Homo sapiens: one gene and its partners. The protein of the gene in region 1 interacts with the protein of each later gene in a pairwise test. Each region holds a gene or a part of one and is shown on either strand. Other genes may lie near its edges.

The links.
Region 2: the proteins of GOLGA2 (region 1) and CDKL3 interact in binary tests that used the Homo sapiens proteins (3 or more experiments, as listed by UniProt).
Region 3: the proteins of GOLGA2 (region 1) and ZNF512B interact in binary tests that used the Homo sapiens proteins (3 or more experiments, as listed by UniProt).
Region 4: the proteins of GOLGA2 (region 1) and CCDC70 interact in binary tests that used the Homo sapiens proteins (3 or more experiments, as listed by UniProt).

Annotation. Positions count from the first base shown.
Region 1 is NC_000009.12:128,255,329-128,259,007, reverse strand, and holds the end of GOLGA2 (golgin subfamily A member 2), read left to right. Parts: coding exon 1-1; intron 2-437; coding exon 438-553; intron 554-809; coding exon 810-1,028; intron 1,029-1,115; coding exon 1,116-1,218; intron 1,219-1,300; coding exon 1,301-1,407; intron 1,408-1,482; coding exon 1,483-1,639; intron 1,640-1,726; coding exon 1,727-1,941; 3' UTR 1,942-3,179; downstream 3,180-3,679. UniProt on the Homo sapiens protein: Peripheral membrane component of the cis-Golgi stack that acts as a membrane skeleton that maintains the structure of the Golgi apparatus, and as a vesicle thether that facilitates vesicle fusion to the Golgi membrane.
Region 2 is NC_000005.10:134,308,137-134,315,182, forward strand, and holds part of CDKL3 (cyclin-dependent kinase-like 3), read right to left. Parts: intron 5,782-7,046; exon of another isoform or gene 5,275-5,781; intron 4,245-5,274; coding exon 4,156-4,244; intron 592-4,155; coding exon 438-591; intron 331-437; coding exon 2-330; coding exon of another isoform or gene 1-1.
Region 3 is NC_000020.11:63,966,885-63,973,771, reverse strand, and holds the start of ZNF512B (zinc finger protein 512B), read left to right. Parts: upstream 1-3,841; 5' UTR 3,842-3,848; coding exon of another isoform or gene 3,849-3,958; intron 3,959-4,114; exon of another isoform or gene 4,115-4,254; intron 4,255-4,402; exon of another isoform or gene 4,403-4,530; coding exon of another isoform or gene 4,531-4,643; intron 4,644-5,819; coding exon of another isoform or gene 5,820-5,821; coding exon 5,822-5,942; intron 5,943-6,248; coding exon 6,249-6,391; intron 6,392-6,767; coding exon 6,768-6,887. UniProt on the Homo sapiens protein: Involved in transcriptional regulation by repressing gene expression. Associates with the nucleosome remodeling and histone deacetylase (NuRD) complex, which promotes transcriptional repression by histone deacetylation and nucleosome remodeling.
Region 4 is NC_000013.11:51,857,250-51,864,982, forward strand, and holds the start of CCDC70 (coiled-coil domain-containing protein 70), read left to right. Parts: upstream 1-4,719; 5' UTR 4,720-4,980; exon of another isoform or gene 4,981-5,039; intron 5,040-7,646; exon of another isoform or gene 7,647-7,733.

The DNA of each region.
Region 1 (3,679 bases):
GGTACGGGAACCTGCTCACAGGAAGAGGAGAGAGCCCCAGGAAGAAGGGGGGACTGTTAGCAGCGTAGAATTGAGGAGTTGGAAGAGACCTTTAGAACAGCTGGTCATTATGCCAACTGGGTGTCCACACTAAGTTCGGCATCAATATGGTGACTTCCTGGGAGCAGGGCACTACCAGCTTACCTAAGGATGGGTGAACTGGCCCAGGTCAGAAATGAAGCAGGTCAGAACTCCCATGCTGATCGGTAGTGGGACTGCACCTGGGCAGCATAGCGAGCCCTTGGCTCTTAAAAAAGAATAAAATAAAAATAAAGAACAGATGCTTATTTCCCTCTGGGGAGGGGCTGGCCCAGGGTTACACAGTGAGGGTGGGGGCAGAGGTGGGCCCACTGTACCCTTGTTGGGTTGTCTGATGACCCCTCTGGCCACCCCCATAGGAGATGGACTGGACCGGGAGGAGGAGGAGGATGAGGAGGAGGAGGAGGAGGAGGCGGTGGCAGTACCTCAGCCCATGCCAAGCATCCCGGAGGACCTGGAGAGCCGGGAAGCCATGGTGAGGCTGACTCCCCCTCCCCAACCTTTGCTGCCTCCCTCTGTGGTCCCTCCCAGACCCCCTTCTGCTCTTGGTTTCCCGGCCTTCTGATTTCTTCGGACCCTCACCCCTTTCCTGGGAGCCAGTGGTGAGACACCATTTCACTTGGGACCAACAAGTGCACCCTCTGAGGCCCCAAGGGAAGGGCTGCTCTCTACCTCCCTGCCCTGTTCATCCTATATATCCTCCTACAAGAATGCACCCCTCTTGCCTGCAGGTGGCATTTTTCAACTCAGCTGTAGCCAGTGCCGAGGAGGAGCAGGCAAGGCTACGTGGGCAGCTGAAGGAGCAAAGGGTGCGCTGCCGGCGCCTGGCTCACCTGCTGGCCTCGGCCCAGAAGGAGCCTGAGGCAGCAGCCCCAGCCCCAGGGACCGGGGGTGATTCTGTGTGTGGGGAGACCCACCGGGCCCTGCAGGGGGCCATGGAGAAGCTGCAGGTGAATGAGTCTCTCCTGGCATGGGTCAAGAAGGGTGGGGGCGGGGCAGGTCGCTGCCGATATATGACTCCATTATTTTGGTTCCAGAGCCGCTTTATGGAGCTCATGCAGGAGAAGGCAGACCTGAAGGAGAGGGTAGAGGAACTGGAACATCGCTGCATCCAGCTTTCTGGAGAGACAGACACCATTGGTGAGTGGGAGGCCAGGGCACGGCAGGAGGAGCTGCACAGCGGTCGGAGGGAACCCAGCATCTGAGCCCTGTCCTCCCGCAGGAGAGTACATTGCACTGTACCAGAGCCAGAGGGCAGTGCTGAAGGAGCGGCACCGGGAGAAGGAGGAGTACATCAGCAGGCTGGCCCAAGACAAGGAGGAGATGAAGGTAGGGTGTGGAACATCTCTGGGGGTGGAGGTGGGCACGGGCATGGGCATGGCAGCTTAGCACCCCTCCCTCCAGGTGAAGCTGCTGGAGCTGCAGGAGCTGGTCTTACGGCTTGTGGGCGACCGCAACGAGTGGCATGGCAGATTCCTGGCAGCTGCCCAGAACCCTGCTGATGAGCCCACTTCAGGGGCCCCAGCCCCCCAGGAACTTGGGGCTGCCAACCAGCAGGGTGGTGAGTAGAGCCCTCGGGAGGGGTGGGCAGGCAGGAGTAAGGGAGGGCTCGCGTGGCACTCAGAGCCCTGCCTCTCTCTCTCCAAAGATCTTTGCGAGGTGAGCCTCGCCGGCAGTGTGGAGCCTGCCCAAGGAGAGGCCAGGGAGGGTTCTCCCCGTGACAACCCCACTGCACAGCAGATCATGCAGCTGCTTCGTGAGATGCAGAACCCCCGGGAGCGCCCAGGCTTGGGCAGCAACCCCTGCATTCCTTTTTTTTACCGGGCTGACGAGAATGATGAGGTGAAGATCACTGTCATCTAAAAGCCGGCTACTGTCAGCAAAGCCTGAAGAAGTGGGGCTGGATACCCTGCCCCCACCATATCCCTACCATCCCTTCTCAGTCAACCCTTTACCCTTACAGTAGCAAGCATAGACCCCTGTCTAACGGGGGTAGACAGGTGCAGATGAGGTGAAGATCACTGTCATCTAAAAGCTGGCCACTAAATTAAAAAAAAATTAAAAGTTATGGGATTAAAAAAAGTTATGGGATAAAAAAGGTTATGGGTAACTTATGGTATAAAAGTTATGAAAAAAGGCCAGGTGCAGTGGCTCACGCCTGTAATCCCAGCACTTTTGGGAGGCTGAGGTTGGGAGTTCAAGACCAGCCTGGTCAACATGGTGAAACTGTGTCTCTACTAAAAATACAAAAATTAGCCAGGCATGGTGGCACGTGCCTGTAATCCCAGCTACTCGGGAGGCTGAGGCAGGAGAATCGCTTGAACCTGGGAGGTGGAGGTTGCAGTGGGCTGAGATCACGCCATTGCACTCCAGCCTGGGCGACAGAGTGAGACTCTGTCTCAAAAAAAAAAAAAATTATGAAAAAAGTTATGGGATTAAAGAAAGTCAGGATAAAAATTTTAAAAAGCAGGCCACTGTCAGCAAAGCCTGGAGAAGTGGGGCCGGAGGCTCCGCCCCCATCATGTGCCTGCCACCCCTTCCCAGTCATCCCTTTACTCTTACAGTAGCAAATAAGACCCCTGTCTAATGGGGGGAGACAAATGTGTAGACCCTTAGCCACCTTGGCCAGGGCTGACTCCTTAAATTTCTGGATGATGATGATTGTTATTTAATAGCCAGAGGCTCATATAATTGGCCTCTTTGGAAGAGGCCTCATGGCCTCCTTACTCTCACCAAAGCAATTTTTCCCTCAGGGGGGCTCCCATCTTCTTACACAGAGAGGCAGCTGAGGCAGGACAGTGGGGCTAACTGTAGACCAGGCGAGGGCACGGGCTGCTGGGGTGGCCCTGCTTCCCCAGTGTACATATTGTATCTGTGTAACATTTTGTATATTCCAGGGGTAGGGCCGCCCCCTGTATCATACCTAGCAGAGGTTGGAGCTGGCACATGGGGAGGAGGTTCTAATAATTATTTGGGGCTGGGAAACTTATTTATTGATAGCATAGGACAGAGGAAGGAGGCGGGGATGGGGTCGTGGCGCCCTGGTGATGCGACTCCTGTTTATTTTGCTTTTTATTTCGGAATAAATGGATTTAGCCATACTGCTCTGCCTGATGTGTTCCTGTTTCTCTCACTGGGTCCTGGAGTTTGTGCCACTGAACAGGGAGCCCCAGAGTGTCTGAGCATGTGCAGCTGGGCTGTTGGGACCTTCCAGGCTTGTTACCTGTATGCTGCCTGGTGACATCTTGGGGATTACACGGGGACTACCATGGTACCTATGGGGACAGTTTGGCCCCGATGGCCAACAGGCTCAGAAGCCTGATCTAGCGGTGGCCAGGAAGACAGGATGCCAGCACCCAAGGGCACTGACTTCCATCCAGCCCAGGTGTCTTCCATTCTGTCCCCCTGCCTCCCTCGCCTGCCTGAGCCTGGTGGCCTGTTCTGTCTGTCCCTCCAGAATGCCAGCCGCCCTGCCGGCGCCCTCCAGGCTGAGTTAATGGCCCTGCCCCCTAGTGGCCAGAGCCCGCTTCACAGGATGAGAGCCCCCTAAGCTCCAGGGGCTTTCCAGGAAAAATGTCCCTTGGAAAAGATGTGGTCTTTT
Region 2 (7,046 bases), on another chromosome or scaffold:
CCTCACACTGGGGTGAAAGAGATTTGAACTGAGATTTGCAGCCATCAAATTACTGTTAGTTAGATTGATGGGTGGCATTGTCACAGAACCTCCGCAATGTGGATTTTCTTTCAAGCCATTACAGTTAGTGCTGGGATTGATAGGGTTTGGTGGTTCAATGGTTACAAGTTTTGTATCTGGAGACATAGGATGAACATTTTCATTTGCATCCTGTTGACCAAGTCCACCTTCATACTCTTTCTTTTTTGGTTCTGAGATATCTCCTCTTCCTCCTTTGACTTTAATAACTCTGACTTTGATCTCCTTGGGCTTTTTCTCTTTTTCTATTTCCTGGAATAGATACATCCAAAATCTGAGTCATCATAACAGTTATTTTTGTCATTAGAGTCTAACTATAATATAATTATACTGGCTGAAACAAAAACCAAAGTTCTTACCTTTCCCAAAACTGAACTACTTAGCAGTGTATTGGTATAAACTGTTTTTCTTTCATCTTTCCTGAGTTCATTTTCTTTAGAACTCTCTTTTGGCTTTATTAATGAATTGACTTTTGCTTCCTGCAGTAATTTAGCTTTCAGTTCTGGCATGAATCTGACAAAACAAGCAATATCAACGAGTAATCTTTTTATATATGCAGATGGAGTATTTTATCTTGAATAAACCATTTCATCAATTAATGTACATTTCAGCTACAGCATAAATAATGCTAACTATAATGCATGTCAAGAGATGGCCCAACATTTACCTAATAAAAATTGCTTTCTTCTAAAGATACATCTTTCGAAAATTATGCTATGGGAACCTACTATATAAAACTTTTACAAAATAGATTTATACTAATTAGATTCCTTCTGCGATGCAAACTTTACTCAGAAAAATATTGCTTTTAATTTTGATAAAGATACTGTTATTTTTAAGGAAGACTCAGACCACTTTGACCTTTTCTGTGGTTCTTCTTTTTTTTTTGAGATGGAGTTTCGCTCTTGTTGCCCAGGCATGAGTGCAATGGCACAATCTCATCTCGCCACAACTTTCACCTCCTGGGTTCAAGCGATTCTGCCTCAGCCTCCTGAGTAGCTGGGATTACAGGCATGTGCCACCACACCCAGCTAATTTTGTATTTTTAGTAGAGACGCGGTTTCTCCATGTTGGTCAGGCTGGTCTCCAACTCCCAATCTCAGGTGATCCACCTGCCTCGTCCTCCCAAAGTTGCTGGGATTACAAGCGTCAGCCACTGCACCCAGCTGTGGTTCTTTAAAGTAATAGAACTTTAAAAATGAACTAACTAACTTCTAAAATCTTACTCTAGAGAAATGTAACAGAATACCTTCATATTGGAGAGAGATTATTTTGGTTTTAGTTTGATTTCTTTCTTTTTAAAAGTTATTTTTGATTAGAAAGTCCATTCATGTGGTTCAAAGTTCAAAAGTCCATACTGAAAAGTTTCCTTCCCACCCCTTCCCTGAACTGCACAAGTCCCCTCCTTGAAGCAGCTACAGCTATCAGTTTGGGAAGGTTTTAAAACATCAGCCCATGAATGAATTCTTCCCTAGTCCAGCCCACTCTTCTGAGGATTCTATAAATTGAACTCAAGGTACTTTCACCCCACAATAATAGAAGCCTAATATCTAAATGTCCAAGAAAAATAAACTTCGTCTGTGTAGAAGTGATATGAAGCAACCTCTTAATTCAATAACTGGCATCTTTTCTTTTCAGACACGGTCTCTCTCTGTTGCCCAGGCTGCAGTGCAGTGACACACTCATGGCTCACTGCAACCCTGACCTCCTGGGCTCAAGAAATCCCCTACCTCAGCCTCCGTAGTAGCTGGGACTACAGGTATACACCAACACACCCAGATAATTTTTGTATTTTTTGTAGAGACAGGGTTTTGCCATGTTGCCCAGGCTGGTCTTGAACTCCTACGTTCAAGCAATCCGCCTGCTTCGGCCTTCCAAAGTGCTGGGATTACAGGCATCAGCTACCATGCCCAGCCAATAACTGCCACTTTTTATCAATGGCACTTCATTTTATTTTTTATTATATTTATTTATTTATTATTATTTTTTGAGACAGAGTCTCGCTCTGTCACCCAGGATGGAGTGCAGTGGCACGATCTCCACTCACTGCAAGCTCTGCCTCCCGTGTTCACACCATTCTCCTGCCTCAACCTCCTGAGTAGCTGGCATTACAGGGGCCCGCCACCACACCCAACTAATTTTGTTTTTTGTATTTTTAGTAGAGACGGGGTTTCACCGCGTTAGTCAGGATGGTCTTGATCTCCTGACCTCGTGATCTGCCCGCCTCGGCCTCCCAAAGTGCTGGGATTACAGGTGTGAGCCACCAAGCCCGGCCTATTCTTTTATTTTTTGAGACGGAGTCTGGCTCTGTCACCCAGACTGGAGTGCAGTGGTGTGATCTCAGCTCACTGCAGCCTCAGCCTCCTGGGTTCAAATGACTCTCCTGTCCCAGCCTCCTGAGTAGTTGGGACTACAGGCACATGCCCACGCCCAGCTAAGTTTTTGCATTTTCAGTAGAGATGGGGTTTCACCATGTTGACCAGGCTGGTCTTGAACTCCTGACCTCAGTTGATCTGCCCACCTTGGCCTCCCAAAATGCTGGGATTACAGACATGAGCTGCAGCACCTTGCCAATGGCACTTTAAATATATCATCTTATTGTTTGTTTTAGAGTAAAATTCCTGAAATGCGCAAAGTTCTAGTCACCCTCAAGGATTCTCTTCGCTTTTTTCTATTTAGTCTATCTCCAATAGCAGTTCCTGGACTCTTCCATATCTGACCTTAGCTCCATCACATTTTTAATGGATGTCCATCTTTCTAACGTCACGTCCAAAGACAAGCTGAATGGTTTTACAGTTAATGAGAAACTTTTCCTGTTTCTTTCAAAGCCCAAATAGAAAATGGTGTTTTTTTAGAAATATGGCTGATTCATGAATCTAAATTGTAATACAGATTATATGCTGGGCATGTCATAGGCAATGTGGGGCACAGAAGGGCCATAAGAAGCATGGCACCTGTCTTCAGGGAACTTCCAATTTCATGGGTAGGATACAACAACAGGCACTGCAGCCGGGCGCAATGGCTCATGCCTGTAATCCCAACACTTCGGGAGGCCAAGGCGGGTGGATCACCTGAGGTCAGGAGTTTGAGACCAGCCTGGCCAAAATGGCAAAATCCCCATCTCTACTAAAAATACAAAAATTAGCCAGGCGTGGTGGCATGTGCCTCTAATCCTAGCTACTCTGGAGCCTGAGGCAGGAGAATTGCTTGAACCCGGGAGATGGAGGTTTGTAGTCAGCCGAGATTGTGCCACTGCATTCCAGCCTGGGCAACAAAGCGAGACTTCATCTCAAAAAAAAAAAGACAACAAGCACTGCAACAGAGAATAAGTAGAAAAAAAATCATTTGGGAAGTGCATGCTAATTATGATAAATGAATGTCATCAGAAGAGGAAAAACCAGACTATTCTCTGAGTCAGAGGTCCAAACAGGAATAAAGCTAAGAAGTATTGATTGCTTATTTAATGTTATCTCTGGTCTATGATGACACTGAAACTGTAGTATGTAAAGAGCAGAGCACACTGCCTAGGACATGGTAACTGTGTAACGAATGTTAGTTGCAATTACTTTTTATTATTAGACTTTCTTTTTCTTTTTTTGAGATAGGGTCTCAACCTGTCACCCAGGCTGGAGTGCAGTGGTGCAATCTCAGCTCACTGCAACCTCCACCTCTGGGGTTTAAGCAATCCTCCCACCTGAGCCTCCCGAGTAGCTGGGACTACAAGCGTGTGCCACCACACCTTGCTAATTTTTGTATTTTTTGTAGAGACAGGGGTCTCTCTATGTTGCCCAGGCCGGTCGTGAACTCCAGGGCTCAAGCAATCTGCCTGCCTCAGCTTCGCAAAGTGCTGGGATTACAGGTGTGAGCCACTATGCCCATCCTATTATTAGGCTTTTCATTCGTGACACTTGTTAAGTCTGCTGTCTTCCTAGTCAATACCTGATACAATAACTCAATAAATTTTTGTTAAACTGAATATTTGTTATATAAAAGTAACCTATACAGCAATTTTCCTGCTAGTAAAATTTCCCAATACAAAATGCTTTTAAAAAACCCACATTCACTCAAAATGCTTACTTTTCAATAAATCCATCTCTAGTAAAATACTCATGATGCAAAAGATCACTAGATGATATCCTGTCAGCAGGATCAATTTGTAAACAAGCCTAGGAAAGGAAAAAGATTTTAATAAGTGAGCTCTCAACAGGGCTCCATATGGTAAAAATTAAATTTATTTGACAAATTAAGAAGTAAGTAATTATCCAGATCAAAAAGCCTTCTTGAAAAGATGGAATTAGACCTCAGGAACTTCTGGTAGTAAGTTCTGGCTGTTTATTTCCCTAAGGAATTTGCACTTGCAAAACATTATTATAGGTTAAATGTCCCATGATTCTAGCCAAAACAGAGGTCAGTCTGTTTCTGCTGAAATTAGCAAAAATTAATTAGCTCATTTTGATCCTCTTTTCTGCCCTGACAGGTGGAAAGTTCATGGATAATCATTTGCATTTTACAGATCTAGAAGCATGATTAGTAGTTTGCCAAACACGAGTTTTAACCCATGTTGTCTGACGCCTAATCCAGCACTCTTTCTATATCATAATACCATTTTGCAAATATTCAAGTCCCTAAATCTTTCAATAACCCATTATTAAATCAGCTCTTTTCTGTTTCCCTTTCTTGGTATAGAAACAAACAAACAAAATATGGAAGGTAGTTTTGAATGTTAAGTTGTACATAATAAATCTATATGTAGTTAAATAACAATAATTATAAATGGAACACATTTCTTTAATCAAAATACTGAAAACAGGTTTTCAATAAAAAGCATCTGCTTTATAATTTTCATTCCTCCTGTGAAAGGAGGTAAAACATTAATAGTTAACTTTTTTGTAGAGATGGGAGTCTTGTTATGTTGTAAGGCTGATGAACTCTTGAGTTCAAGCGATTCTCCCGCCTCAGTCTCCCAAAGTGCTGGAATTACAGAAGACAGCCACTGTGCTTGGCCTTTTAAAATTTTTTAGAGACAGGTTCTTACTCTGTCGCCCAGGCTGGAGTGCAGTGGTGCAATTATAGCTCACTGGAGCCTTGAACTCCTTGGCTCAAGATATCCTCCTTCCTTAGCCTCTTGAGTAGCTCAGACTACAGACACATGCCACCAAGCCTGACTAGTAACTTTTATTGATGCTTACTACATACCAGACAACGCTCCAGCTTTTTCTTCCTTCCATCGCAACAACAATCCTACAAAGTAAGTATTATTATTATCCTCATTATACAGATGAGGAGACTGAGGCCCAGAGAGATCAAGTAATTTGTTTAAGATCTCATAAGTAGAGGAGCCACAATTAAAATCCAGCAAATCCAAGATAATTGTATATAATATTATGTTTCTGTTTATTTCAAAATGCATATTTAAACTGATTCACAGAAAAAAATCTAGAGATCTGCTGTACTATAATGTGCATATAGTTAAAAATGCCATACTGTACACTTAATAATTTTGTAAGAAGGTAGATTCCATGTTATGTGGGGTTTTTTTTTTACCAAAATAAAAAACATTGATTCACAAGGAGAAATTATTTAAGTCTGTTACCTACTTAATGATGTGGCAATACCTAGGTCTTTAAGACTGCAACTAGTTGGCCAGGTGTGGTGGCTCATGCGTGTAATCCCAGCACTTTGGGGGGCAACAGAGGGTGGATCACCTGAGGTTGGGAGTTAGAGACCAGCCTGACCAACATGGAGAAACTCCGTCCCCACTAAAAAAAAAATAATACAAAATTAGCCGGGTGTGGTGGCACATGCCTGTAATCCCAGCCACTCGGAGGCTAAGGCGGAAGAATTGCTTGAACCCGGGAGACAGGAGGTTGCGGTGAGCCAAGATCACGCCATTGCACTCCAGCCTGGGCAAGAAGAGCAAAGCTCCGTCTCAAAAACAAAACAAAACGAAACAAACAAATTAAAAAAACCCTGCAACTAGTTAAAAATATGTGCTCATTTTAGAATATAATGGTAATCTATCACTAAAACTTATAAGAAAAATGCTAAAAGGTCTGACCAAATCATAGGGGCAGACAATTAGAGGCAGTCCTTCTGTGAATATAATTCAGTAAATTTAAATATATGCCCTACTTTGGAAAATGTAAAACATGACACTTTGGGAAACAGATTGGCAGTTTCTTTAAAAATTAAACATATGCCTACCCATGACCCAGCCATTCTGTTCTTAGATATTTCTGCAGGAGGAATGAAAATACAATGTGTGTTCCATACAAAGACAAACATGAATGTTCTCATGGCAACTTTATTTGTAATAGCGAAAAGTGGGAAATAACCCACATGTCCATCAACAGGGAAAGGATTTTTTAAAATGTGGTATAGTCATATAATGAACTACTACTCTGCAAAAAAGGAACAAATTGCTGATACATACAAAAACATGAATGAATCTCTAAACCATTATGCTGAGTGGAAGAAGCCAGACATGAAAGAGTGCCTACTGTATGCTTCTATTTATATAAGATTCTAGAAAATTCAAACTAATCTATGGGAATAGAAAGCAAATCAGTGGTTATCTGGGGACAGAAATGGAAGAAAAGATGAATTGTAAAAGGACACAATGAAATTTTGGAGAGTGATGGAAATGTTAGGTATCGTGTGTGTGTTTGTGTGTGTGTGTGTTAGGTATCCTGATTGTGGTGGTGGTTTCATGTGTGTATACATGCATCAAAACTCTTCAAATTGTACATTTTAAGTATGTATAGTTTACTGCCCACAAATTATACCTCAATAACATTGTTTAGAAAATTTATATCTAGGAAAAATATGTGCCCTACATCAGATATCAAAGTGTATTTTAAAGTTACAATAATAAATCAAAGTTGTACTACTTCTAGAATAAAGAGAAAAATCAATGGAACAGAAACAAACCCACACATGTATAAGCATTTTGTCTATGATAAATGTAG
Region 3 (6,887 bases), on another chromosome or scaffold:
GTGGCTGCCGGGGGAACTCGGGCGCATGGGCATTACCCGTCTCCGCCTCTGTAATCAGATCACCTCCTCCTCTTCTGTCTCTCAAATCTCCCTCTGTCTCTCTCTTATAAGGATGCTTGGATTTGGGGCCACCTGGGTAATACAGGATAATCTCCTCATCACAAGATCTTTCATCACATCTGCAAATACCCTTTTCCCAATAAGATCCCATTCACACGTTCAGGGATAAAACACAAACATCTGGCCTGGTACGGTGGCTCACGCCTGCAATCCCAGCACTGTGGGAGACCAAGGCAGGAGTGTCGCTGAAGGCCAGGAGTTCAAGACCAGCCTGTGTGACATAGCAAGACCCCATCTCTACAAAAAACTTTTGAAACTAGCCAGGCATGGTGGCGCATACCCGTAGTCCCAGCTACTTGGGAGGCTGAGGCAGGAAGATTCCTTGAGCCCAGGAGTTCAAGGCACAGTGAGCTCTAACCACACAACTGCACTCCAGCCTGGGCAACAGAGCAAGACCCTGTCTCAAACACAGATCACAGCACACACACACACACACACACACACCACACACACACAGCAATCAGACACATAAGAGCATAAACCACACACAGAGACTCAATGACACTGACACCAGCAAACACCAACACACACAAACACATGCATGTAGTTGGCCAGGCACACAGACACAAAGGTATGTAACAGCATGCCCCCATACAAAGATGTCATTACACAAATACACAAATACTAGCATGCAGACACACAACGACCTCCTAACACATAGAAACACATGGGACACGGCACATCCCCGGTGCACACAAACACACTGTATTCCACGACACCCTGGCATGTAGATGCTCACAGAAAACAGCCGTCCCTCACCAGCACCCTGACACTGAGACATGCCGCAGCCTGGACACATGGATACTGAAATCCAGACACATCGTCCCCAGGTACCCTGAGGTCTAGTCGCCCAGATGCTAAAATACAGACAGGCATTGGTCTCACCTAGCATGGGACACTGTCATATCCTGACACGGCAATGTCCAAACAGGTCGCATGTATGGACACCCAGACTTACACAGGGAGAGCTGACGGCCTTGGCTGCACCTAAGGGGACACACACTGACCCCTCAGGAAATCCTGCTGGTCCCGTCCCCAGGGTGGGAAAGGTCAACAAGGGAAGGACGTGATGACGCTAGCCTCACAGGGAATGCCCTCCCCTTCCTCCTCGGGTCACACAGGCTGGTGTGCACTGGCCTCTCTGACTCAGATTCCCGAAGGAAGGATTGACTGACTGCCTCTTCTATAAGAGCCAACCTCCAATCTCCATGTGAGTGCTCTGCACCAGCCTTGAGTGAAGCAGATCCCAGGCCCCTTTGAGGAAAGGCAAAAATCTTACTGCCCAACCCCCTAGCAGTGCCTCTGAGCTTGCTCCACGGGGTACAGGGAAAGGGGCCGACTGGGCCGGAAGGGCCCCAGCGAAGGAGGCACACCTGGTAGTTCCATTTCCTGACTAGCAACTTCCAGCCCACATCAATTTTAAGGAGTCCAGAATATTTGTAGTATGCAAAAAGGGGCATTACGAAACTTTTAAAAGTCTGTTTTAATTATAAAAGTAATATATGCACATGGTTTTAAAAAAAATGCTGGCTGGGTGCGGTGGCGCATGCCTGTAATTCCAGCACTTTGGGAGGCCGAGGTGGGTGGATCACGAGGTCAGGAGTTCGAGACCAGCCTGGCCAGCTTGGTAAAACCCCGTCTCTACTAAAAATACAAAAAATCAGCTGGGTATGGTGGCACGTGCCTGTAATCCCAGCTACTCAGGGGGCTGAGGCAGAATTGCTTGAACCCAGGAGGCGGAGGTTGCAGTGAGCAGAGATGGCGCCACTGCAGTCCAGCCTGGGCAACAGAGAGAGACTCCATCTCAAAAAAAAAAAAAAAAAAATGCTCTATGGGCACAAGATGAAAACCCAGAGTCTCCTTGACTCTTCCCTCCTGAGGCCTGAGGCCTTCCCTGGGAGATGGGTGCTGTGAACAGGTAAGAATGGCCCTCCTAAGGCCAGGGGCAGTGGCTCACGCCTGTAATCCCAGCACTTTGGGAGGCCGAGGTGGGCGGATCACGAGGTCAGGAGATTGAGACCATCCTGGCTAACAGGGTGAAACTCCGTCTCTACTAAAAATACAAAAAAATTAGCCGGGCGTGGTGGTGGGCGCCTGTAGTTCCAGCTACTTGGTTGGCTGAGGCAGGAGAATGGCATGAACCCAGGAGGCGGAGCTTGCAGTGAGCCGAGATCGCACCACTGCACTCCAGCCTGGGCTACAGAGCCAGACTCTGTCTCAAAAAAAAAAAAAAAAAAAAATGCCCTCCTAGCCAGAGGCGGTGGGTCACACCTGTAATGCCCACACTGTGGGAGGCTGAGGCAGGAAGATGGCTTAAGCCCAGGAGTTCAAGACCAGCCTAGTCAACACAGAAAGACCTCGTCTCTATGAATACTTTAAAACTTAGCCAGGTGGGGTGGCACACACCTGTAGTTCCAGCTACTTGGGAGGCCGAGGTGGGAGGATTGCTTGAGCCCAGGTGGTAGAGGCTGCAGTGAGCCAAGATCACACCACTGCATTCCAGCCTGAATGACAGAGCGAGACCCTATCTCAAGAATAAAAAAAGAACGGAGAAGGAGAAAGGAGAGGAGGGGAAGGGAGGGGAGGAGAAGGGAGGGGAGGGGAGAAAAAGAAAGAGAGAGAAAGGAAGGAAGGAAGGAGAAAGGGAGGGAGGGAAGAGAAGGAAGGGAAGGAAGGAGAAAAGGAAGGGAGGAAGGGAAGGGAAGGAAGGAAGAAGGAAGGAAAGGAAGGAAGAAGGGAGGGAGGAAGGTAAGGGAAGGAAGAGAAGGAAGGGAGGAAGGGAGGGAGGGAAGAGAAGAGAAGGAAGGAAAGAGAAAAGGAAGGAAGGAAGAAGGAAGGAAAGGAAGGAAGAAGGGAGGGAGGGAGGGAAGGGAAGGAAGAGAAGGGAGGGAAGGAAGAAGGAAGGAAGGAAGGAGAGAAGGAAGTAAGAGAGGGAAGGAAGGAAGGCAGGCAGGCAGGCAGGCAGGCTCTCCTGGGGGAGATTCTTGTGGGTCCTGTGCCAGTCCCGTGTGGTGCCTCCTACCAGTCCTCTTTAGGAGAGCCAACCTTTCTCTGTCTCATTCATTCCCAAGTCCTGTGCTGTCAGTGCCCCGCCACCTCCAGACCACTCAGCCCACACCGGACCCCAGTGCCCCCTGCCTGCAGAAGCCCAAGCTGTGGGGCAGAGAAGGCCCTGGCACTGGTTCAGAACCACTGCCCCCAGAGCTGGGAAAGGGTGACCCAATGGTCAGTGACCCCAGTAAAACCCCATGGCCTTAAGCCGCCAGGCACCTCCGGGGGTCAGTCGCAAAAGTGGTCTCAGGGCCAGTTGGAAGAAGGCTGAATCCTGCGCTGCCGGTGCACGGCCCCCAGGGCCAGAGGTCAGGGTCCCGAGCCCAGAGACCACACTCGCCGCGCGGGCCAGGATGCGGCGGAATCAGGTCGCCTCAATCCGTGCGCGCCGGACTCCGGGCAGTGCCTAGCGCCCCTATCGGGCCTCAGTTTACCCCACTGTCCAAAAAACGTCCCCCGCCCCAGGACGGCAGAACCGGCTACTCTGGACTGCGGGCCCGGCCGACGGGGGCGGAACCGCGGAGCGGGGGAACCACAGGCCAGCGCCGGGCCCCCGCCCCCGCCCCCGCCCCCTCCCCGCCCCCTCCCCGTCGCGGAGCGGCCGCGGGAATAACGCGAGAGTTCGCCCCCTCCCCCCCGCAGTAAAACTGTCAAAGGTGGGAGGGGCGGGAGCGCGCATGTGCGCAGCGCGGCGCGCAGCCTGCGCCGCCCGGACCCAGCGCCCCGCGCCCCGCGCCCCCCGCCCCGGCCCGGCCCGGCCCGGCCGCAGCCCCGCTGGGCGCCGCAGGTAAGCGCCCGGCCGCGCCCCGGACCCATTCTGGCCGCAGCCCCGGCGCCCACCGCGCCCCGGATCTCGACCCTGCGCGCAGGCCAAGGAGGGGGCCGGGCCCGGAGCCCCCCCGCCCCCCGCCGCGCCCGAGCCCCCGCGCCCCGCGCCGGCGCCGTCTTCCTGCCTCCTCCTTCTCCAGAAAAAGTCGCCATTTTGGTTCACTGCCTTCGCCCCCCCACCCCGCGCCCGCGATCGGCCCTGCCCGGCCAGGCCGAGGCCCGCGCCCCGCGCCCGCTCCCGGCCCCAGGTGACAGGTGGGTGGCGAGGCTGGCCCCAGGTGCGCGTCCCTGGCCGCGCTCACCCGCGCGCCAGGCCTGGGCCGGGGTCCCGGGCCGAACGGCCTACGCGGCGGACCCGCTGCTGGCGTCTCCTGCGCGCAGCGCGGCGGAGCCCCCTCTCCCCGCGAGGGCTCTGTGTCCCCGCTGGGCTCGGGAGGGCCGAAGCCCCTTCTCATCCGGGGCGCCAGTCGCGTCTCTGCCTCCCAGGCTGGCCCTGGCCTCAGGCCCCACTATTCTGAATTCTTCTCCCAGGCTTCAGAAAAATTGGAAGTGGGGCCTCAGCAGGCACCTGCACCCCAGGCCACCGGGGTCATCAGGTGCTGGGATGACTCATGCCGGCCCTGTCTCCTTTCAAAAGTTGCAAAGTGAGGACTTCCAGAGAACTTTGTCCCCGGACACTGGCCTCCCCCTTGGCAATGGGCAGTGACTGTCCTGACCTCTGACCTCAGCTCTCTGGCCCTCCTGGACACAGCAGCCCCTTCCCATCCCCTCGGATCCAAGTTAATTAGAAGCTATCAGGAGGGGGCCACCTGCCCACTCAACCCTCACCCTGCTTCCTGTCCCACCCCCTTCCGTGGCTTTTCCACAGGGCTGGGCCCAGAGTCTCCTCTGCTCCCCAGCTCTCAGGATGGGGTTCCCAGCAGCACAGGCCCTCGGGGGCCCCAGCCTTGGGCAGCAGGGCGTTCTCTCTGGCCAGCATCCTGGGCCTTCACTGCTGGTGCTTCCACGACTTGTTTGGCTGAAGTGGTAGTGGTGGGTCTGTAGGCAGAGGACTGAGAGGATCCAGAGAGAGGTGGGGGGCGGGTCAGCCTGCCAAGCCTGGAGACAAGTCTGCGAAGAGCATCAGGTAGGATAGTTCAGCCGGCACAGGGACGGGAGCTTGGTGCAGTGCCAGATTGGGCCAGGGGTCCTCAGTGCCCACCTTGGCTGTTTTCCATCTGTGTCTGGAGAGAAGATTCCAAGGGTACCTGCCTGGGTAGGCTGGCATTGCATCAAGTCAGCATGGGAAGGTATGAGGGCCCCAGTGAGAAGCTGTGCCCCCACTGCTGGGCCTGGGCAGCTTGTGAGCCAGCAGCCATCATCAGAGACATAATTGGCCCCTGGAGGAATGTTGCCAGCCTCCTTCCTCCTGCGCAAGGCACCTCTCCCAGGGGCACACCCCCTCCCAGCACTGGGTAGGAGTGCATCACCTTCGGCATCATCTTCGCAGCTGTGGGGCTACGCACACTGTGGAGCTGCGTACACTGTAGAGCTGCGTGTTGGGAAGGGGGTCTGGAAGTTGGTGAGGGTCTCAGGACAGGACTAGATCCTATCAAACTGATGATGACTCCTGGGTTATCTGGGGAGACCTTGGCTGGCAGCCCCTCCCCTAAGTCAGAAGCCCCCATCACTTGCTTTTCCCACGTGAACAAAACCACAGGAAGGCAGGCCCCTCTTCCCTGACCAGAGAGGACCTGCCAAGGGCAGGGCTCCAGGGCAGCCTCACCACGTGTTCCAAGTGGGGCCCGTCAGGCTTCACAGATTGTCTACTTGCTCTGCAGAGATGACGGATCCTTTCTGCGTTGGAGGCCGTCGGCTCCCGGGGTCCAGCAAGAGTGGTCCCGGGAAGGATGGCAGCCGAAAGGAGGTCCGACTTCCAATGCTGCATGACCCACCGAAGATGGGTAAGAGGAGTCAGGGCCAGAGTCAATTCCAGATGGTTCTGGGCAGCAAGTGGTAGGAGTGGACCATTGCCCTGGGCGTCCTGTCTCCAGGTACCCAGCTAGGCCCCTAGAGTTCCCAAGGACCTTACCAGGGTAGGGGTTGCCTTGGACATAGCCCAGGGTCCTGGGTTCTTGTCCTCAGCTGGCCGCAGCCCCTGCCCCCGGTGCCCTCGTGTTGGGACAGCGGTGCTCACTGTGGGCCTGTGCAGCCGCCGGTGGTAGGCGGTGCTACACAGCTTCCGAGCCTTGCTGTGTTGTGTGCTGCAGGGATGCCGGTGGTCCGTGGTGGACAGACAGTGCCCGGCCAGGCCCCTCTCTGCTTTGACCCGGGAAGTCCAGCCAGTGACAAGACAGAAGGGAAGAAAAAGGGGCGGCCAAAAGCCGAGAACCAGGCCCTCCGAGACATTCCTGTGAGCTCCCTCAGGGCCATGGTGGGGCTCATGCTGGGGTCTCCCTATCCAGCCACTGCCCTGCCCTGATTTGTCCTCTGCACATCTGGTACCAACTCTATGCCTCAAGATGTGGGCACTGGCCTGGCAGACTTCACGTGGCCTGGCTTTGTATCTGATGTGCCGGGAGATTCGGGGGATCGCGTTGGTGGGCTCCTAGAACGGGTCTTGTGCATGGCCCCTGCCAGGTGGCTTGAATTCCCACTGCAGTCCCGAGGTTGAGGGGCTCATGTGGTGTGTGTGCCCTGCAGGCCCGGGGGGGCTCTGAGTCTGGGGCTCGGGCTGGCAGTGGCCCAGGTGGCTGCGGGTCAGCAGCACCACCTTTCCCCACGCCTAGCTCTCCCTGATGAACGACTGGAAGGATGAGTTCAAGGCACACTCGAGGGTGAAGTGTCCAAACTCAGGGTGCTGGCTGGAGTTCCCCAGCATCTACGGGCTCAAGTACCATTACCAGCGG
Region 4 (7,733 bases), on another chromosome or scaffold:
AAAAAAAAGGTAAAAGTATTTTCAACAAATAAACAGTGAGAGATTTCATCACAAGACCCATACTAAAGAATATGATTTTTTGAGTACCTGAAAAATTATCCCAAACAGAAGCACAGAGATGCAGGAAGAAATGAAGAGCATGAAAAAAGGTAAAAATATGGGTAATTACAAATGTATGTTGACTAGCAAAATCTTGAGGAGTCTTGAATATACGCAGAATTAAAATTTATGACAACAAAATGAAAAAGGTAGAAGGGGTATAAGTGGAGTTAAAATCATCTAAGATTCTAGCATTATCAGAGAAACAGTAAAGATAAAAATCCATTAGACTTTAACAACTCAAGGATGCCTATTATAATCTCCAGGATAATTGCTAAAAGAATATATAGCTAATGACATAATAGAGGAAAATGGAATAATAAAATTATTTAATTAATCCAAAAGAAAAAAGGAAAAGTAACATTTAACAGGTAGGAGTAGAAAAAACATGGTAAGAAAATAGATTCAAATCTAATATAAATCAGTAATTATATTAAGTGTAAATATTTTTAAAAACCAAATAAATGACAAATTGTATTACAGTAGAAAAAACAAAACTCAACTATATGTTCATCATAGGAAATACACTTTAAATATAAGGGCACAGAAAGGTTGAAATAAAAGGATAGAAAAGATACACCATGCAAACACTAATAAAAGCTGACGTGCCTATACTAAGATCAAAGTAGAACTTAAGGCAAGAAGTATTACTAAAGATAAAACGGTGGCATTTTATAAAAATCAAAGTGTCAATATGCCAAGAAAATATAACAATTGTAAAATATGCATGTATCTAATAATATAGCCTCAAAGTATATAAAACAAAAACTGACCTAACTGGAAGAAATAGATCTGCAAGTACATCTCTCTCAGTAACTGACAGAACAAGCAGCCAGAAAAATCTATAAGGATATAGAAGATTTGAACAACATAGGTAAAGACTCAACCTAATTCAGACATAGAGAGAGAGAACACTGCATCAAGCAACTGAAGAATACCAATTATTTTCAAGTGGACATGGAACATTTACCACAATTGAATGTATACAGGGCCATAAAGCAAGTCTTAGCAAATTGAAATGATTGAAATCAGAGTATACAAACCATATACTTTGTGCAAACCATAATGAAATTGAGCTGGAAATCAGTAACAAAAAGATAATTGGAAAATCCCCATATATTTGGAAGTTAAGCAATGTACTTGTAAATAGCCAATAGATCCAAGAAGAAATTCCAGTGGATATCAGAAAATATTTTAACTGAATGGTAATTAAAAGGTGACATATCAAAACATGTGAGACGCAGGTAAGTGTACTTAGATGAAAATGTTGTAGGACTTTCTCCTTAGCTCAGCTAAAAACCGGGTTCTTTGGGTTCTTGTCACATAACCAGGAAAAGATTAGGCTTGTGGACACACAGAAGGGTAAGAAAAACGAAATTTATTGGGTGTAAAAGGAAAAAAACTCAGCAAAGCGAAAGGGGTTCCTGTTAACAGGCCCCCATCTCACAGACTGAATCCTAGGTTGCCACCCAGAAACATGAGAGGCCAAGCTCCTTCCCCCCTGCAAACAGTGAGAACTTCTCGAGGTCCCGCCCCATCCACCCGGTGGCAGGTCGGAGGTTCTCCCGGGAGCCCTTTTTACTTGGCTGTTTCGGAAACTGATGGTCTTAAGCACACATATTAAAAAAGAAGAACGGTTAAAAACCAATGATTGAGACTTCCAGAATGACTGAGTAAGGGTTAGGATGGATTCTTTCCATCCTCAAAGAATTTTTACTATTTGACCTGTTTGGCAGTTCACTGAAAAGCTTCCTTCACAGAATTTGTCTTTATTTGACTTGACTCAGAGCTTACTCTGTGCAAATAACCCTATCCTCAGGGCATTTGTAAAAAAAAAAAAAATGGTAATTGTTTAATATCATAGCTGCCTGATTTGGCATTACTAGCTGGGGTTAACCATAGGCTTGACCAATAACTGAAAAAGAAAAACTGGAGAATAAGACGGAGACTTTGAAAAGTTTTGATATAGTCCTGAGAATTTGGGTCACATGCATGTGACTGTGCACATGGCTGAGAAAGACCTGAGAAGGCCATAATCTCTCACCTCAGGCTGACTTTGAGGCTCTCACAAGAAGGAAGCGAAGGCTAGGCAGAATCATAAACTGCCTGCATGATCACTAAAGGTATGCCCAACCTGCACCCCCGACTCCCAACCAAACACACACACACACACACACACACACACACACACACACACACAGACACCCCCTCAGCAAAGGAAAGGAGACATCAGTTCATGGAGATCTCTGTCCAGTCATTAGCTGATCGTTAAGCTAATAAGCAGACTTTAATGCCCACACATGATAAAAAATATAGACTTCATAGAATTTGTCCAAGAAAGTCACTAAATGAACAAATAGCAACAGCAACAACAATAAATGCCACCAACAAAACTTGGGAGTGGAAATCTCATTTTTAGTTACTATATTATTTTAAGTGTCCAACTTCAACAAAATTTTTTGAGGCATAAAGAAACAGGAAACCCTTTATTGCAAACAGAGTTATATATAAAGGGGGAAAAGCAGACAGTAGAAACTGTTATTCTATTTTTTTTTTTGTTTTGAGACAGGGTCTCACTCTGTCACCCAGGCTGGAGTGCAGTGGCACGATCATAGCTCACTGCAGCTCGACCTCCTGCACTGAAATGATCCTTCCTTCCTCAGCCTTCCAAGCAGCTGGGACTACAGGCATGCACCACCACAACTGACTAATTTATTTTAGTTTTGTAGAGACAGGGTCTTGTTATGTTGCTCTGGCTGGTCTCAAACTCCTACCAGGAGGACGCTCAAACCATCCTCCCTCCTCGGCCTCCCAAAGTGCTAGGATTACAGGCATGAGCCACCATGCCTGGCCTGAAACTGTTATTCTCTGAGTAATTGTCTTTTTGGTTATAAACTGTCTCTGAGGAATTGCAGATATTGGGCGATTAAACCAAGATTTTTAGTCAGCTATTACAAATGTAGTTAAAGAACTAAAAGAAACCATTCCAAAAGAATTAAAGGAAAACAAGGCCAGGTGTGATGGCTCACACCTATAATCCCAACAGTTTGGGAAGCCGAATGGGTAGATCACTTGAGCCTAGAAGTTTGAGGCCAGCCTGGGCAACATGGAGAAACCTTATCTCTAAAAAAACACAAAAAATTAGCTAGGTCTGGTGGCGCACGCCTGTAGTCCCAGCTACTTGAGAGGCTGAGGTGGGATGATCACTTGAGTCCAGGAAATTGAGGCTGCAGTTAGCCAAGATCATACCATGCCATTGCACTCCAGCCTGAGTGACAGAAACATGTCTCAAAAAAAAAAAAAAAAAGCATTAAAGGAAAGAATTAAAAACTATGCCTTACCAAAAAGAGACAGAAAAGTATGTGTGCATACATATATATATGTGTGTGTGTATATATATATATACACACACACACACTTTGTATACATATACTTTTATATAGATATATAGAAAAAATATATATATAGAAGTGTGTGTGTGTGTGTGTGTGTATATATATGTATATAGAAAAGCACATATATCCTTTTCTATATATAACCAAACAAATTCTGGAGACACAGTGAAAATTTCTGGAGAAATTCTGGATGGACTAGGGGTCCACTGACAGATGAATGGATAAAGAAATTGCAGCATGTATATAAAGTGGAATATTATTCAGTCATAAACAGAGAATCCTGCCGTTTGTCACAAGATAGATGAAACTGGAGAATATTATGCTAAGTGAAATAAGCCAGACACAGAAAGAAAAATGCTGCACAACTTCACTTATATGTAGAATATTAAAAAAATTAAAAAGAAGAAGTAAGAAAAAAGTCAAATACACAGACAAAGAATAAAATGGCAGCTGCTACGTGTGGGGAGTGGACGGGAAGAGGGAAATCAAAGGGTACAAAGTTGCAGATATATAGGATAAATAATTTAGAGATCTAAGGTACAACATGAGGACTGTAGTTAATAACACTGTATTAAAGATTTTTGCTAAGAGAGTAGATTGTGGGTGCTCTTGCTACAGTGCACAAAAAAGGGTAACTATATGAGATGATGGATATGTTAATTTACTTGACTATTTAAAAATTTTACTACATGACAAAAATTCTGGAGTTGAAAATGAAAAATTAAAGAGGGATTCAACAGCATATTTGAACTGACAGAAGAAAAAAATCCATGAACTTGTAAACAGGTTAATTGAGATTATCTAATCTAAGCAACAGAAAGAAAAAAGAATGAAGAAAAATGAACGTAACTTTAGAGACCTGGGGGACACACTCACGCTACTAGTATTCACATAATATGAGCCCTAGAAGGAGAGGAGACAGAGAAAATGGATGAAAGAATATTTGAAGAAATAATGGCCAAAAACTTCTGAAATTTGATGAAAAACGGCATCAAATCTGCATATCCAAGAAGCTCAACAATCTCCAAGTAGAATAAACCTCAAGACCAAGACACATCATAGTCAAACTATCAAAAGCCAAAGACGAAGAATCTGGAAAGCAGCAAGAGAAGTGATTCATCCCACACAAAGCCCCCACCAGAACATGACTTCCTAGAACCATGCTCCCGGAACCAATGCTGACAGAATCTAAGGTAACAATCACTTGTGAGTCATCAACAGCACTGCCCTATCAGTGAAGTCAAAGATTGAAGAGGAACTCTTTCAAACCTTTCAAGTGCCCCCTCCTTTCCTTAAAGTCTTTTATAGGGGTCCCCTTCTTGGCCATCTCCATCCTGTGAGTCAGGACTGAAAGGGCACAGACAGGTCACTGCCAGCATTGTTGGGGCAAGCCTGCAAGCACGCATCACTGGGGATCTGACATGACAATGGCCGCCTGCCCCCTCTGAGGGCTACAGGACTTACCCCAGTGGGAAGCAGCTAAGCAGTAAGTAACTGTTGGCTTTAGACTGTATAGTATTTGTTCTAAGCATAAGGTAATATATAATATTTTCCTTAAAAAGAAGCTCCTAGTCTTACAGTATAACTGAAAACTGGGCATGTATCTTTAGTGCATGTTTTTACAGCTATACAGATACACATCTACAGTTTTATATTGTACTTTATATTTTAATACACATCTACCTATTTGATATGGTTCTTATTTTCTTTCTTTCTTAAAGAAAGTTTAGTGTTCACTTGAGAAAAACTTGGAGGTGAATGTTTTCCAACATCCTAACCCAGTAGACGCCCATTCATCCAGCTACTATTTCCTGAACACCTATCCTGTGGCAGAACATTTCGCTGGATGCCAGACATAGAGATGGAAGATGAGGTGTTTCTAGTGGGACAGGAAGGGCACATGCTCAGTCTGAGCTTAGGAGAGATGGCCTGGAGGAGGTATCTGAGTGCTGAAGGATTCGCTAGGTGAACTGAAGTGAGGTTGGGCAAGGATATCCAGGGAGAGGGGGCCAGCATGACATGGAAGTGAGGGAGGACTTCACATATTGGAGGGATTCTAGGCAAAGAGCCATACAACATAGAAAATCAAATTTCCAAAATGCAGTTCAATTCAGTTCAATTCAACCAACATTTTCACCAATTCCCTCCTATATAGGCGGCGTTATATTATGATAGCTGCTGGGTTACAGAGATGTCAGGAAGACATGTCCACACCTAATTTCAATCAAGTGTGACAAGTAATAGTGGAGTAACAGACAGACAGTATCGCAGAGGTGGCGAGGAACTTTGTCTGGAGGGTCCGAGTAGCTTTCAGAGGGGAAAGGATGTACAGGAATTCAAGCCCACCACAGGAACAAAAGGGGCTCTCAGTAGAGGATGCGACATGTGCTTCACCACACAGGCAGGAAACTGCAGGCAGAGTGCCAAGAGCTGAATAGAGCCCGTTAATACTGGGCCTTAGATTTGGAGTTGGGTGCAGGCTGGGTAGGAAGGAGAGGGAGAAGCAAGCTGGAGTTGGGCTGCACAAGGCCTTCCTAGGGCGTTCAGCTTTGATCTTTGGGCTACAGGGTCTTTGAAGGTGTGTGAACTGATGTGATAGGACGAGAGAGTGTTCTAGAAAACACCTGTAGGGCTACAGTGCAGGGGCAGATGAGAGGGTAAGATCAATACAGAGAGCAGCGAGACTGTTACAGGCATCCTGGCCTGACCTGGCTGTCATGGGGGAGATGGAACAGGGGCATGGTTTCAGGAAATGTTAAGGATCTGGATCTCGGCTAGGAGGGCTTGATGGTTGAGGAGAGAAGTCTGGTGAGGGAGAGGGAAAGGTCAAGGATGTGCCCCTGGTTCTGGTTTGTGTGACTGGATGGATGGTGATGCCACCAGCTGTCCACAGCCTAGCCACTGTGTCTTCATATGCACGCGCACACAGACACACACACACACACACACACACACACACACACACACCAGCTATGTGTCTTTTCTCCTCCTCCACTCCCTGTTCCTAAACCAGAAATGGAAAAATACAGAGAAAGCCCTGAAAATTTCCCCAATAGGTCTCACGGATGATGGGTTGGTGAGATCCACTGAGTGAGGGCCGGACCCTGGCAGCTTCCTCCAGAAAGCACAAAATGGAAAACAATGCTGTCAGCATGTGCCTGCACTCCTTATCTGACAACACTGAGCTCTTTACTGCACTCTAACCACCTTCCTATGTCCAGCACTTTTTCTCATCCCTTGATTCATGTTTGTAGTTACAGGGATTGCTATGGATAATTCTGCTATCTGATTCCTCAGATATATGGCAATGTTTGAAGATCTTTCTCCTTCCCTCCCTCCCTTCCTTCCCTCCCTTCCTTCCTTCCCTCCCTCTCTTTTTCTTTTCTTTTTTTCTTTTCCTTCTTTCTTCCTCCCAGCTTTTATTTTATTGTGAAATATACTGTATTGACTGGGGTACATAAAATATCCATGTACCACTTAACACATTTTTATAACAACACACATGAAACCGCCACCAAGCAAAGAAAGAGTCCTGCTAGCACTGCAGAAGCCTCTCTCAAGTACTCACCTAATCACACCCCTTAGTCTCACCTCCTCATCCCACACTCCAAATCCTCCCACACCAGCAACTATTACTCTGACTTTGGGACTCACTTCCTTGCTTTTCTCTTTCTGTGTTGAAGTATGTTCCCCTAGACAATGGCATTTAGTCTTGCTTGTTTGGAACTTCATTCTTTGAAATTCCCTGATCCTGCTTCTCTCTTTCAGCATTGGGTTTATAAGATTTACCCATGCTGTTGTAGGCAGCCATGCTGTCTGCCATGTGGATATACTGCCATTTTTTATTCCACTCTATTGGGATGGTCATTGGATTGTTTCCAGAGTTGAGCTCTTATGAACAAAGCTCCTTGAACACACTTGTACATGTATCCTAGTCACAGTTCCTAAGTTTCCTCAGGGTTTATACCTGGGACTGGAGCTGCGGGTCATCTGGTGTCTTTCTTATTGTTCCATATTACTAAATATTGTGTGAGGGCCTTCTTGGTCCATGTCCCTGGAAACATTCACCATCGTCTCTCACCTTTTTGTTTTAAACCACTTTTCCCAAAATAAACTCCTCTCCTAAAATACACTCTCCTCCTCCCCTCTGAGGTCAGTGGGCCTGTCTTCTGTGTCCCAGGCTCGTAACAGAGGACATTCACACGTGAGCATGCCCATAGGCAGATAGGAACAATTCTC